Linked DNA regions of Homo sapiens. The protein of the gene in region 4 purifies or fractionates together with the protein of the main gene of each other region. This does not show direct contact. Each region holds a gene or a part of one and is shown on either strand. Other genes may lie near its edges.

Evidence for each region.
Region 1: the proteins of RETNLB (region 4) and CNTNAP3 purify together in Homo sapiens (affinity purification with mass spectrometry; one large-scale study listed by BioGRID and IntAct). This does not show direct contact.
Region 2: the proteins of RETNLB (region 4) and EMILIN2 purify together in Homo sapiens (affinity purification with mass spectrometry; one large-scale study listed by BioGRID and IntAct). This does not show direct contact.
Region 3: the proteins of RETNLB (region 4) and SULF1 purify together in Homo sapiens (affinity purification with mass spectrometry; one large-scale study listed by BioGRID and IntAct). This does not show direct contact.

What each region holds. Positions count from the first base shown.
Region 1 is NC_000009.12:39,176,668-39,180,167, forward strand, and holds part of CNTNAP3 (contactin-associated protein-like 3 isoform 1 precursor), read right to left. Parts: intron 1,694-3,500; coding exon 1,490-1,693; intron 836-1,489; coding exon 651-835; intron 1-650.
Region 2 is NC_000018.10:2,885,006-2,888,505, reverse strand, and holds part of EMILIN2 (EMILIN-2 precursor), read right to left. Parts: coding exon 3,367-3,500; intron 1-3,366. UniProt on the Homo sapiens protein: May be responsible for anchoring smooth muscle cells to elastic fibers, and may be involved not only in the formation of the elastic fiber, but also in the processes that regulate vessel assembly. Has cell adhesive capacity.
Region 3 is NC_000008.11:69,625,347-69,628,846, reverse strand, and holds part of SULF1 (extracellular sulfatase Sulf-1 isoform 1 precursor), read right to left. Parts: intron 1,638-3,500; coding exon 1,541-1,637; intron 1,076-1,540; coding exon 981-1,075; intron 677-980; coding exon 611-676; intron 1-610. UniProt on the Homo sapiens protein: Exhibits arylsulfatase activity and highly specific endoglucosamine-6-sulfatase activity. It can remove sulfate from the C-6 position of glucosamine within specific subregions of intact heparin.
Region 4 is NC_000003.12:108,755,138-108,758,746, reverse strand, and holds RETNLB (resistin-like beta isoform 1 precursor), read left to right. Parts: upstream 1-1,336; 5' UTR 1,337-1,561; coding exon 1,562-1,688; intron 1,689-2,158; coding exon 2,159-2,239; intron 2,240-2,841; coding exon 2,842-2,969; 3' UTR 2,970-3,109; downstream 3,110-3,609. UniProt on the Homo sapiens protein: Probable hormone.

The DNA of each region.
Region 1 (3,500 bases), on a different chromosome or scaffold from region 4:
CTTACGCCAGTAAATATCACAGTTTTTCTGGTTTGTTATGATCCTTCATACACTTTAAGGTGTCCTGTAAAGGACTGAAAGAATAGATGCTATTTAACAGTGTAGCTTAGATACATATGGGCAATGGGTTGCAAAAAGCATTAATGACTTAAAAAATATCAGGATATTATTTATATGTGAGCATCTGACTTTTCTTGTTATTTAATAAATCTATTGGTGTATATCTTGTTAACTTCTCAAAGTGATCCTAAATAATGCTATGTTGGTTAGGATTGCACCAAGACAAGAAAAAAAATCCCCCAGGAATCTGCATAGTCAAACAACAAGTGTAATATACCAGATGAAATTTCAAATGAAATATATTCAAATGAGTACATTTAATAACAATGCTTGCTACTTTGGTATTTCTGCATTTGTGGATTTCCTAAACCTAACACTGACTGTTTACTTCTTTCCAAGGTGGAAAAGATGATCTATTATAATAAACTGACCTATTAGAAGGCATAAACAGTTTCATAGTACCGGGACAGACATACCATACCTATTACTATTAGTCAACTTAGTTATGAATTACTATAAAATGGCATTTCTCTATGCAGCTACCTTATTTTTCAGGTTATATTTAATTTAAACTATATATCTATAATAACCTCAAAATTAAGATCCAAGTAACTGGAATCTCCCTTTGCTTGGAAATGATGAGTGTGTTTGTCCACGGTGAAGTTGACCTGCGTGTCGAGGAGCTCGATGAGGACGGAATGCCAGTGCTGGTCGTCCAGCAGGCTGCCCAGGGTGAGGGTCACAGGAGCAATAGTGGAAGGCAGCTTAGCATTGCCTTAAAGGAGAAGGAAAAAAACAGTTATTTCTGTTCAAAATCACAGCTTCCCTTTTTTAGTTGAGCATCACAGTTTGCATCCAACTTTCCATCTTACAGAGTTGTTTTCTCACTTTCTCCCTATCTTGAACACAATAACCTTACCCTGTTTTTATTTTTTTTAAGTTCAATTCTACACTTTGTTGAAATTTTTCTTAGTATTTTTTCTATTACTCATGACATTTGGATTTACAATGCAAATATTTTCTTTCTTAGAACCTCATTATCAGCATTATCTCATAATTTTATAATGATGTATTGTCTTTATGATATGGATAATCATATATTACATATATATTATACACACATATGGTGATCTTGCACAGTTTGTCAAAATATATGCTGTTTACAGAAATCATACTTAGGATATGTATGTATTGCATGCATCTGGTAGTAATGCTCTTAAATTTTCATTTACATTTGTTCATTGCAGTTCTACTTTGCACTTACTGTCCCAGAGTAACTATCACTTGTGTATTTTTTATTTCTTAAAGGTGTTCTGGTTTAGATGATGAATTATATGGTCATTTTATCTAACTGTGAAAAGACTGAGTACCAACAAATGTAAACAGATTTTTTTTAACTACTGGTATAAAAGTTCAAGTATTTTTTTACCTGAATTAAGAAAAAAGACAAGCTTTCCTTTAATTAATTCCAGAGTAATGTGATTTCCATGTTGTCCTTCTCTGTGAAGTAGAATTCCATTGCTCTGCATGGCTTTAAATTTCAAAGAAATAACGTCTCTTATTGGTTTTAAAGGTTTTTTATCAAGTCTATACAGCAGAGCACTTTGTCCATCAAAATAAACCACCTCAGATTCTAGGAAAGAAGATATTAGAAAGCAATTCTAAATATAAATATGTCATACAGTAGCACATTGAAAATGTGTGCATCAATATGCCACACCACACACACATAGACACACATTGTATTTCTAAGCCATTCATTGAAGGAAACAACTGACAATAATATATTTTCTGGTGGCATCATGAGTTGATATATGTAATACCCACCGTTAGAATTTTCTAACATTTTCTCAAACTTCATCATCTAGAAATGCTTTTATTAATCTACTCCCAATGGCTCTTATCTTTAGAGCAGCCCATTTCTTCTCATTCTGTTTGATTAAAAACAATCAGGAAAGAAGCTGTATTTCACTACATAAATTATTTATTTTAAGGTCATTCTTATATTAAATATCAGTGTCACTCAATTTAAATACCTTTGTTCATTCCCAGTAGCTTTGGCTTCTCTTGATTCTTACACATGTACCTACTTTACTAAAGATTTTGTCTGTAAAGATACAGAAACACATATCATACTTATTAAATACTGCTTTAGACATGTAATAAATGTATTTTAAATGAGCTGACATGTAATATTTTTCTCAACCCTCGGCTAATGGTACTGCTAATGGGCACTGCAATGTGTCAACTTGGCTAGGCCATGGTAAACAGCTTTTGGTCAAACACTAGTCTTGATGTTGCAGTGCAGGTATTTTTTAGAGGTAATCAATATTAAATCAGTAAACATTGAGTAAAGCAGGTTAAACTCTATAACGTGGGTGAGCCTCATCCAATCAGTTGAAGGCTGTAAGAGAAAGAAAGAAAACTGAAGTTCTCTAGGAAAGAAGGAATTTTGCCTCCAGACAACCTCTGGACTCCAGCTGCAATATCACCTCTTACCTAGGACTTGCCAGTCCTTACAATCAGGTAAGCCAATTCCTTAAAACTCTCTCTCTCTCTACACACACACACACACACACACACACACACACACACACACACACACACACACACAGGCACACAGACATCCTATTGGTTCTGTTTCTCTGGAGAGCCCTGTCTGACAAAGGCACAGAGGTTTTGTTTTCTTGGATGCTTTGTTGAGAGAGCATGGCCTTAACACCTCTGTTTTGGTTCTTCCTGCTGTAGCTTGTCAGAACTCCAATGCTGCCACACTCTCTCAGCACTCTGTCAGGGTCTTATAAATTCACTATAAATGTCACATATGTTCAGCTCATCAAAAAACAAGTTGTTTCATTTTATCAGTAATATAAAATAATATTTGATAATATTTGTCAAAATCACATGAAGAAATTAATATTACCCAGAAAATCTCTTCTTTTTAAAAGTAAAAAGAAAAATAAGCAATTGTCCTTTGAAAAATATATTTATTTAATAAATGAAGATGCATGAAAACCTAGTGAAATATGAAACTATTTGAAGCTGACTAGCTGATGTCATTCAAGCCAATAAGATGGCATTGTTTAATTATATTTAATTTCACAAAAATATTACTAGTACTTTTTGCATGGCTATCCATTTCATTCACATTATCTGAAATACATATAATAAACTGCACTTCAAAAGTTCTCCATTTTATGTATCATTTTAAAATTTAGAAGTTTGATTTTCTCACATTGGGTTAATGTACTTACAAGGAATTAATGTATCAAGTGCATGATGAATAAACACATTCTGAGTAAAATATGTGTAAATTAAACAATTATTCCTTGTTACATAACTTATTATATGTTCATGATAAAAACAAAACTCTCTGTCAAATGTAAATGAAGACATCTAAGATTATTATTACCTGGCCATGAACTAAGGGAAACCTGAAA
Region 2 (3,500 bases), on a different chromosome or scaffold from region 4:
CTGACCTTGTGATCCACCCGCCTCGGCCTCCCAAAGTGCTGGGATTACAGACGTGAGCCACCGCGCCCGGCCGTTATTCTCTCTTAAGACACTAAAGAAAAAAACAAGTTACTGAATCATGTGCAAGTGGAATGCTATTCTAAGCAAAGGAAATAAAAACAAAGGGCGGCAAAGGGGGGAAGATTGAGGATGTAAGGAAATGCTTTGCTCATATACCACGGTGACTGTGCAAATTGCATTTTTTTCAAAGGATAATTTGGCAACATGTATCAAAATACTCAGAATCTTTTGACCCTACAATTACACTTCAAGAAATTTATTCTAGTGAATAATCAGAAATGAGTGCAAAAATTTAACAGGAAAAGATGCATATTCATATATTATCTATAATAGTGAAAAATTACAAACAACCTAAGTGACCAACAGTAGAGGATGGTGTTCAATAACTCACATTCTCTCAAGCCATTAAGTAGTATTGTAGAATATTTCATGACATGGAAGGTTGTCCATTATAGGTTATTCAATAAAAAATAAGTTCCAGGTCGAGTGCAGTGGTTCTGCCTGTAACCCCAGCACTTTGGGATGCTGAGGTGGGAGGATCACTTGAGTCCAGGAGTCCAAGGTTGTGAGCAGTAATCATGCCACTACACTCCAGCCTGGGTTACAGAGCAAGACCCTGTCTCTAAAATAGAAAAAGTTGTAAAAATAGTATTTTTTTTATAATGACAGTGAATTCAGGGTATGTTTGTCCATTCTGTATTGAAATAAAGGAATATCTGAGACTGGGTAATTTGTGAAGAAAAGAGGTTTATTTGGCTCACAGTTTTGTAGGCTGTACAAGAAACATGGTGTCAGCAACTGCTTCTGGTCAGGACCTCAGGAAGCTTCTACTCATGACGGAAGGTGAAAAGAGGGCCAGTGTGTCACATGGTAAGAGAGGGAGCGAGAGGGAGCAAGAGGGAAGGGAGAAGGTGCCAGGCTCTTCCAACCAACCAGCTCTCGTGTACTAACAGAGCAAGAACTCATTTATTACCGCAAGGAGGGTACCAAGCCATTCATGAAGGATCAACCTCCATGACCCAAACACCTCCCATGATACCCCATCTCCCACATTGAAGATCACATTGCAACATGAGATTTGGAGGGGACAAACATTCAAACTATATCAGAGGAAAAGCATTTCTTTTTACTCCTTCCTAAAATCCCACTAAAAGGACAAAATAAAAGGAGGAGGGAGACAAAAAAACCTACTCAAGTCACACACAAAAAACTGGGAGTCAGAAAAGTTTTGGTGTTTTTTTAGCAGCAATATTGGAAGCTAGAGAAAAACTGAGCACTATTGTCAAAATTCTGAAGGAAAGTGATTTCTGACCTAGATTTCTGAAGCTAGAATAAAAAATAGTGTTCATACTATAAAGTGGTAAAAAGTTTGCTTCCCATGTAATTGTCTCATGAAGCTACTAAAGGACATGCTCAAGCAAAGCAAGGGGCTAAGCCAAGAAAGAGGGAGCAGGGGACACAGGAAACAGGGAATTCAACAGGAGAGGGGCAAGTTAAGATCCTCGGGTGAAGACAGGAAAAGAGGATGTCCCGTCCAGGTAGGGCAAGTGAGAAGGCTCAAGGGAGACTTCTTCAAGAAGATGAAAATGCTGTGTCTGAACATATGGAGGGGACATTTAGAGAGCCAGAGAAGAGTTGGGTTGAAATAGCAATAAAAAGAGAGAAAACTAAGCAAAGGAAAAACATAAGACAATGATTTAACTGTAAGGAATCAAAAAGCTGCGTAGGAAAGAAAATCTATTCATAGTACACCACATGGCTCAGCTGTAAACATTATCTACATAGTTACTACAATGTAAACACTGAATACTGAGTAAATAAAGAATATGGTCTAACTGTATGGAAGGGATGGGGGGATAGGAGCCATGTGTTGAGGAGTGGATGAAAGGGAGTTAAATTCTCACCTTCCATAATGAAAAACCAATAGATATGGAGGTAAATTCCAAAAGATTCATCTGAAGAGTTTAAAGTACTACCCATGGGAAGGGAAAATGAGAAAAAGGGTTTCAGGGTGGTCATTGTTTTTCCTATTAGTCCTTATAAAGCTATTCAACTTATTAAACTACAATATGCTTAAACTTCTGTCAAACAAAAACTAAAATGAAACAAAACAAAAATAAATGATTACAATCCACCAGCCCCCATGTCATGTTCCCTCCATCCCAGTATCTGTCATGAATTATTGTAATTACTCTCTAATGTCTGCCTTCCATGAAGTCAGGGACTCTGTCTGCCTTTTTTCTCACTTATTCCAAGTACCCAGTATAGAGCCTGACAGATATAGAAGTTCAATAAATATTTGTGAGATAAATGAATTTTTCTTTAACAAAATCAATGTACAGACATAGGAAAGAGAGTAAGGTTCTATAACAAAATGTCAACAGTAGTTCTCATTTAGTCATGAGATTATGTATCCTTAAATATTTTTCAAACATTCTTTAATTGATGTGCATTACTTTTGTAGTTAAAAAGTCATTTTAAAATCTATTTTTACAGACAATGTTGGGAAGAACTACGAGTTTCAAACCTGAGAACACCTCATGGCAAAATATAATCATTTAAGCATCTAATTTCATAAGAAAACCTAGGCTGCATTTATTGTGACTGAACTTAAAAAGATGAAGTGATGGCCAGGCACAGTGGCTCACGCCTGTAATCCCAGCACTTTGGGAGGCCGAGGTGGGCAGATCACTTGAGGTCAGGAGTTGGAGACCAGCCTGGCCAACATGGTGAAACCCCATCTCTACCAAAAGTACAAAAATCAGCCGGGCATGGTGGCAGGCGCCTGTAATCCCAGCTACTCGGAGGCCAAGGCAGGAGAATTGCTTGAACCAGGTAGGCAGAGGTTGCAGTGAACCGAGATTGCGCCACTGCACTCCAGCCTGGGCGACAGAGCGAGACTCCATCTCAAAAAAATAAAAAATAAAAAACAATTTTAACCCCCCTAAATTCAGATGTATGGGCCCAAGTAAAAACAAACAGTACATCATTACATCTGAATCTCTTCACAGCTGTGCCTCCAGGTGACACAAGTCTGAACCCACTGGCATTTCCTACCCTGATGTTTAAGGCATTGGCTTTCACAACAAGCTGGCCCTAGCAAAGCAATTTACTTGCAAGGAAGTTTGTCTTACAATTGCTACTGCTCCTGAGAATAAATTTGTCACATGTGGCTACTGCAGGTATCTATGTGTGTTATTCGAAGGCCATTCAAAGCTCACCATTGTAAAGCACAAATCCTGTTGTTTGAAGGAGCACCGGAAATATTAAAGGTGGCCATACATAATAGCACAAATAAGAAGTTACCTGTGGCTTTCTTCAAGCTGTTTCGAGGCCGAGCCGGCGTGGGGCGGAGGGTCTTCACGGGGTCTTTGGGACCTTCTTGGCAATCTCCCCCTCTAAAGCCAGGACAGCACCTCCATTCCAACTGTGTCACTGTC
Region 3 (3,500 bases), on a different chromosome or scaffold from region 4:
AGCCATCGAGTTAAAGGTTAGTTGAATCAGATGGCTTGGATTAAAAAGTTTAAAAAATTCTTTGACAAATTCTACTAAACAAGTTTAGATAGCCTTTATTTTTTAGAATTATTTTTTATTATTTTGTTTTTTATATATAAAAGGCTTAAACTTTGTTGAAGTTTAAATACTAAATCTCCTTCACATGCAAATTTTGCTATTATTTAAAAAAATTTATATTTCTTCCCACTTTCAGAATTCAGCACTATTCCAGGCTGCTCTGTAGAACACCAACTGCATCGAGAGAGTCTGTAACCCTCAAGCACTCTCCACAGAAAGCAGTGCATGGAGTAAAATCTAGTTACTGGTCCCATCTGCCAGGTAGGGAGCACCCACAGAATGACAGTGGAGTTCAGCAAGCCTCCCCAACAAAGGATGCCAAGAGCATTGCCACGGTCCCTTGGTGAGGTGGGGCTTTGCTTTCAACTTCATGAGCTAGGTGCCCTCCTAGATGGATCTACTTCTTCTGAAGCGGCACTGCAGGAAACACAGGGGTCCCTCCAGCCTCTTCGAAGGGCCAGGTGGACAGTCATTGACTCCCAGCAAATGTGGAAAACAGAGAGTTACTTACTTGAATGGGTGAAGATGGCTCTTTAATTTCTCTTGCTTTTTTACACCTTTCTCTTTATTGTAATAGCTGCAGGAGAGAAGATTAAAAAGTGAGACTTCATAGCCTTGCATTGGATCAAAGTGTTCATTTTATAAAAAGAAAGCAAAATAGAAAGAAGGAAGGCAGTGATGTTGTAAGTATTTTAGCTGAATGTGACTTTTTACTTTCTGCTTAAGTTTAAGCATATTTAGTTTTACTTAAATAGCTTAGGTTATCGTACTCTATGACAATACATTCTATAGGTAAGAGAGAAAAATGAGCCCAGTGCTAATGCCTCTGGCTTGTGCGGAAATGAATTTGGAAAGTGGAGCATGGATGGAAACAAGCTCACCTTTGTTTACTGCAGCTACATTCCTCAGGCTTCCTTCTCTTCAGATGTCCTCTCACTTCTCTTAAATTCTTAATTTTATCTTGCAGAGCTTCAATCTGGAAAACATGTTTTCAAGCACTTACGTATTAAGATCAGGATTTTCTTTACAAAGTACTTTTCTTTTCACCTTGTTTTCTCTGTTCTGTAATAACAGCTATTCATCTGAGATGATACTTAACATAGAAACAAACTGGGCATAGAATATGTCTATATAGACTCTATATTCCAACCCATGTGTTATAGATAAACATTAGCAGATTCCTCTTTTATAACTGAATCATTTTCTCACAGAGATTTCAAAAGACCATTGAGTCAGTTCCCAGTCTCTTCTCATACTCTATATTGTTTTCAGTAGGACTATCATTAAATCACTGGAGAAAGACAAATAACTTTTTTTTTTTGTATTTTTTCACATAATTATAGATGATGTGTATCTGTGGTATGTCCCACCAGACACAGCAGGGCTGGCAGGCCGAGTTTGAGTTTGGAATATATCTGACAGTCACATAGCCATGGCTAACCTCTTTGTCAATGTATGCCTTATGGTCCTTCCACGCTCTGGCCGATTGGTACAGTTCTCTCTCACAATGGATAGAGTCATTGGGAAGAATAAAACACCTGCAAAACAAACCAAAACCATGTGAAATAGGTTTATATTCTAATAGCAGAAAACACTAAAGATAACAAAGAGAAATTTTAATCCTCAAAATCCTTAATGTTGATACATGCAGTAACCGTTGAGCTGATCCAAGACCAGCATCAATGGGAATATTGAGAGGTGACAGCGTGCTGGCAGTCGTGACAGCGTGCTGGCAGTCCTCACAGCCCTCGCTCGCTCTCCGCGCCTCCTCTGCGTAGGCTCCCACTTTGGCGGCACTTGAGGAGCCCTTCGGCCCGCTGCTGCACTGTGGGAGCCCCTTTCTGAGCTGGCCAAGGCCAGTGCCGGCTCCCTCAGCTTGCAGGGAGGTGTGGAGGGAGAGGCGCGAATGGGAACCGGGGCTGCCTGCGGTGCTTGCGGGCCAGCTGGAGTTCCGGATGGGCGTGGGCTTGGCTGGCCCCACACTCGCAGAGGCCGGCCGGCCCTTGCGGCCCCGGGCAGTGAGGGGCTTAGCACCCGGGCCAGCGGCTGCGGAGGTACCAGCAGTACCAGCCCACCGGCGCTGCGCTCGATTTCTCACCGGGCCTTAGCTGCCTTCCCGCAGGGCAGGCCTCGGGACTGCAGCCCGCCATGCCTGAGCCTCCCACCCACTCCATGGGCTCCTGTGCAGCCCGAGCCTCCCCGACGAGCACCACCCCCTGCTCTATGGCTCCCAGTCCCATCGACCACCCAAGGGCTGAGGAGTGCGAGCGCATGGCGCGGGACTGGCAGACGGCTCCACCTGCAGCCCCTGTGCGGGATCCACTAAGTGAAGCCAGCTGGGCTCCTGAGTCTGGTGGGGACGTGGAGTCTTTATGTCTAGCTCAGGGATTGTAAACACACCAATCAGCATCCTGTGTTTAGCTCAAGGTTTGTGAGTGCACCAATTGACACTCTGTATGTAGCTGCTCTGGTGGGGCCTCGGAGAACCTTTATGTCTAGCTCAGGGATTGTAAACACACCAATCAGCACCCTGTGTTTAGTTCAAGGTTTGTGACTGCACCAATCGACACTGTATCTAGCTGCTCTGGTGGGGCCTTGGAGAACCTTTATGTCTAGCTCAGGGATTGTGAATACACCATTTGACACTGTATCTAGCTCAAGGTTTGTAAACACACCAATCAGCACCCTGTGTTTAGCTCAAGGTTTGCGAATGCACCAATCGACACTCTGTATCTAGCTGCTCTGGTGGGGCCTTGGAGAACCTGTGTGTCAAAACTCTGTAACTAACTAATCTGATGGGGAAGTGGAGAACCTTTGTATCTAGCTCAGGGATTGTAAATGCACCAATCAGCACCCTGTCAAAACAGGCCACTCCGCTCTACCAATCAGCAGGATGTGGGTGGGGCCAGATAAGAGAATAAAAGCAGGCTGCCGGAGCCAGCAGTGGCAATCTGCCTGGGTCCCCTTCCACACTGTGGAAGCTCCGTTCTTTCGCTCTTTGCAATAAATCTTGCTACTGCTCACTCTTTGGGTCCACGCCGCTTTTATGAGCTGTAACACTCACCGCGAAGATCTGTAGCTTCACTCCTGAGCCCAGCGAGACCACGAGCCCACTGGGAGGAACGAACAACTCCAGACGCGCTGCCTTAAGAGCTGTAACACTCACGCGAAGGTCTGCAGCTTCACTGCTGAGCCAGCGAGACCACGAACCCACCAGAAGGAAGAAACTCCGAACACATCTGAACATCAGAAGGGACAGACTCCAGATGCGCCACCTTAAGAGCTGTAACACTCACCACGAGGGTCCGCAGCCTCATTCTTGAAGTCAGTGAGACCAAGAACCCACCAATTCTGGACACAATAGGTTCTAGCCACCAGTGAGGACAAAATGTCACATGGGT
Region 4 (3,609 bases):
TATCAAAGTATTGGAATTATGGGCATGAGCCACAACACATGGCCCCTTTCTCTGCTTCTTCATCTGCACTTCTTTAAATTTTATTTATTCATGGTGGCCACATGCCCCATCCTAGATGAGGAATCATGGCATCCTCATTCCTCTTGGCCATATGTGAATCCTCAAAGTCCTCAATCCCTTATCCATTATTCTAAAATCTAAAAGGCTCTAAAGATGAAAATGTTCTGTCCTAAATTTGAGGCTAACTCATTTGGCAGAAAAACTTGGCATGGCCTGGTGTGAGGCTCTTTATGGTCTTTTATTTATCCCACATTAATATTCATACATTTTGCATCAGGCTATTTATGCATTAGACTGCAGAGTGCTGCCCCCAACCTCCTTGGTGGTTTAACATAATATACAGAATTTGCACCTTCCATAATCTGAAACATTCTGAGTTCTGAAACATACCTGGGCCCCAGGTCTTGGATAAGGAATTGTGAAGCCCAGCTCTCTTTTTCAGCCATAGCTGATAGAAAGGGAGGTTGTGTGACCCAGAACCAAACAGTGGAATGTAAGGGGAAATCTTCTTGAGCTTCTAGAGAAAGATCTTGCTCTTAAAATAAAAAGGTAAAGCCCCTACAGAAAGTGGCCTTGCCCCACTCCTTCCTTCCTGCTCAGGGTCTGGGCTGAGGATGTGGCACCTTCTACCTTGTGACCATGAGGAGACAAGATCGAAAGATTAGCTGAGAATGGTGGGGGAAAAAGGGAAACTTTATGAGCCCCCAAAAGAACTCTGGAATCATAAACCATGCTTCTAGTTAAGTAAATACTGAACTTCCTTATTTTTAATCCAGGATTAATTAGTCTTTCTGTGACTTTCCTCCAAATGAGATTGGCCAGGGACAATAAAATGGTGTCTGAACAGGTGACAAGTAGGGCCCTCCCTCAGCCAACAGAGATAAGAAAGAGCATACACTTGGGTTTGGGATAGATGATGGGTGGATTAATTTGTTTGTTAACTGCAAAGTAACCTCTTCCTGATGAAGGATCAAACAAGAAGCCTATAATACCGGCAGACCACAGAAGGCCCAGGTGCTAGCCTTATCGGGTTGCCAAGAAGAAAGGAGAAGGAGAACAAAAAGGCAGGAGGACTCCCTTGGCAGAGATCCAGAGCAAAGGCAGCTGTTGCTTCTCATGAACACTCCAAAGTTTATCACAGTCACCTGTTACCCTAGCTGGCACAGGTCTTTGAAAGTGTGCTGGGAGTGTGTTTACATGTTTGTGTGTGCTTGTATGTTAAAGGTGCCCAGGTTAATACCAGGTGTATTAAAACGCCCTTGCCTGGCTAGTCCTTGTAGACCTTCTCTGAATGTTTTGGTGAATAAATCTGTTCTTCAGCAACCCTACCTGCTTCTCCAAACTGCCTAAAGAGATCCAGTACTGATGACGCTGTTCTTCCATCTTTACTCCCTGGAAACTAACCACGTTGTCTTCTTTCCTTCACCACCACCCAGGAGCTCAGAGATCTAAGCTGCTTTCCATCTTTTCTCCCAGCCCCAGGACACTGACTCTGTACAGGATGGGGCCGTCCTCTTGCCTCCTTCTCATCCTAATCCCCCTTCTCCAGCTGATCAACCCGGGGAGTACTCAGTGTTCCTTAGACTCCGTTATGGATAAGAAGATCAAGGATGTTCTCAACAGTCTAGGTAACTGACTGGGGTAGGGGAAGCGGGGGGTTGACCCTTGCTCATTTCTCCTGTTCTTAAACTCTAGCTTTGTCTCTATCCCATCCCAAGATCCCAACCAAGCCCAACCCCTGATGAGGGCTTTCTACACTACCCTACCCGTGTTTGAAGTCTTGGCTAAAAGCTGAGGTTTTCCTGATGAGGAGGAAGAGGTGGAGGAGAATGGTAGCTGTAATTTATGAACACTCATTATGAACCAGGTATAATCCAAGTTTTACGTAGATTATTTCATTTAATTCCCACAACCATTTTATGAGGTAAGGACAACTATTACTTCTGCTTTAAAAATGAGGAAACTAACCTTAAAAGCTGATGAGTAGGCTGATTCTGGACACAGTGTCACCTCCAAGGTAGAAGACAATTTGGAAGGGGATAAGGGGATTATGGGGAGGATAGCTCATGGGATGTACCCTTTCTTCTTTCCTACTCAGAGTACAGTCCCTCTCCTATAAGCAAGAAGCTCTCGTGTGCTAGTGTCAAAAGCCAAGGCAGACCGTCCTCCTGCCCTGCTGGTGAGTAACTCCCTGAGAGGGAATGGCGACTACGATGCCCTGTATCCTCCCCTGTCCATCTCCCTGCACCTACGTCTTCCCCCATGTCAGGTCTGTATCACCCTGGCACCCTGGGGCTGAGTCATGACTCTTGGTTCCCAGAGACCCCTTGCCCATTCTTGTTTCCCTGAAGGATGCTACTGGGGGATCTTGGGCTTCTGCCTCTTCCTTTCACCCCTTCACTTCATGCCCCTGTTTCTCAGCCCTTCCTCTCCTCCATTGTCCCATAATGATCACATACTTCATTTCTCTTTCCAATCTATTCCTCTGTTTTGATGGGTAGGGGCCAACAGAGAGGTGAATTTATCACAAATCGAAGAAAACTGAAACTCCCAAGTTCCAAGTCTCTCACTTGCATGAGTCTCTTTCATGGCAGCAAATATTTGTTTCTGTGATTTCTGTATTTCTTTTCTTGAAATGAGCTCGCAAAATTGAATGAGCTTGAGGCCCCACGAAACCTAGCTCTACCCCTGACTGCACAGGGTTGAAAGATGGTTGTGGGTAGCCCTTCCTCCTCTTAAATTCCAAGAGCTCTGATGTCTGTGCTTCATGTGCTCATGCAGGGATGGCTGTCACTGGCTGTGCTTGTGGCTATGGCTGTGGTTCGTGGGATGTTCAGCTGGAAACCACCTGCCACTGCCAGTGCAGTGTGGTGGACTGGACCACTGCCCGCTGCTGCCACCTGACCTGACAGGGAGGAGGCTGAGAACTCAGTTTTGTGACCATGACAGTAATGAAACCAGGGTCCCAACCAAGAAATCTAACTCAAACGTCCCACTTCATTTGTTCCATTCCTGATTCTTGGGTAATAAAGACAAACTTTGTACCTCTCTGTGCTTATGTCATCTCTGTTATTGTCCCCAGCTTGGGGCTCCCCTATCCAGAAAATGTTGTCAGTGTCCCAGTGGTGACATCTCAGTTTGGGAAGTGGGATGGGAAGTTAGGAAAGATATGGGAAGAATGGGAAAAACAAACTGACACTCCAAACCCCCACTTCCCTCATTTTTATTTATTTATTTATTTATTTTTTTCTTTTTTTTCATTTTTTTTTTTTTTATTATACTCTAAGTTTTAGGGTACATGTGCACATTGTGCAGGTTAGTTACATATGTATACATGTGCCATGCTGGTGCGCTGCACCCACTAACGTGTCATCTAGCATTAGGTATATCTCCCAATGCTATCCCTCCCCCATCCCCCGACCCCACCACAGTCCCCAGAGTGTGATATTCCCCTTCCTGTGTCCACGTGATCTCATTGTTCAATTCCCACCTATGAGTGAGAATATGCGGTGTTTGGTTTTTTGTTCTTGCGATAGTTTACTGAGAATG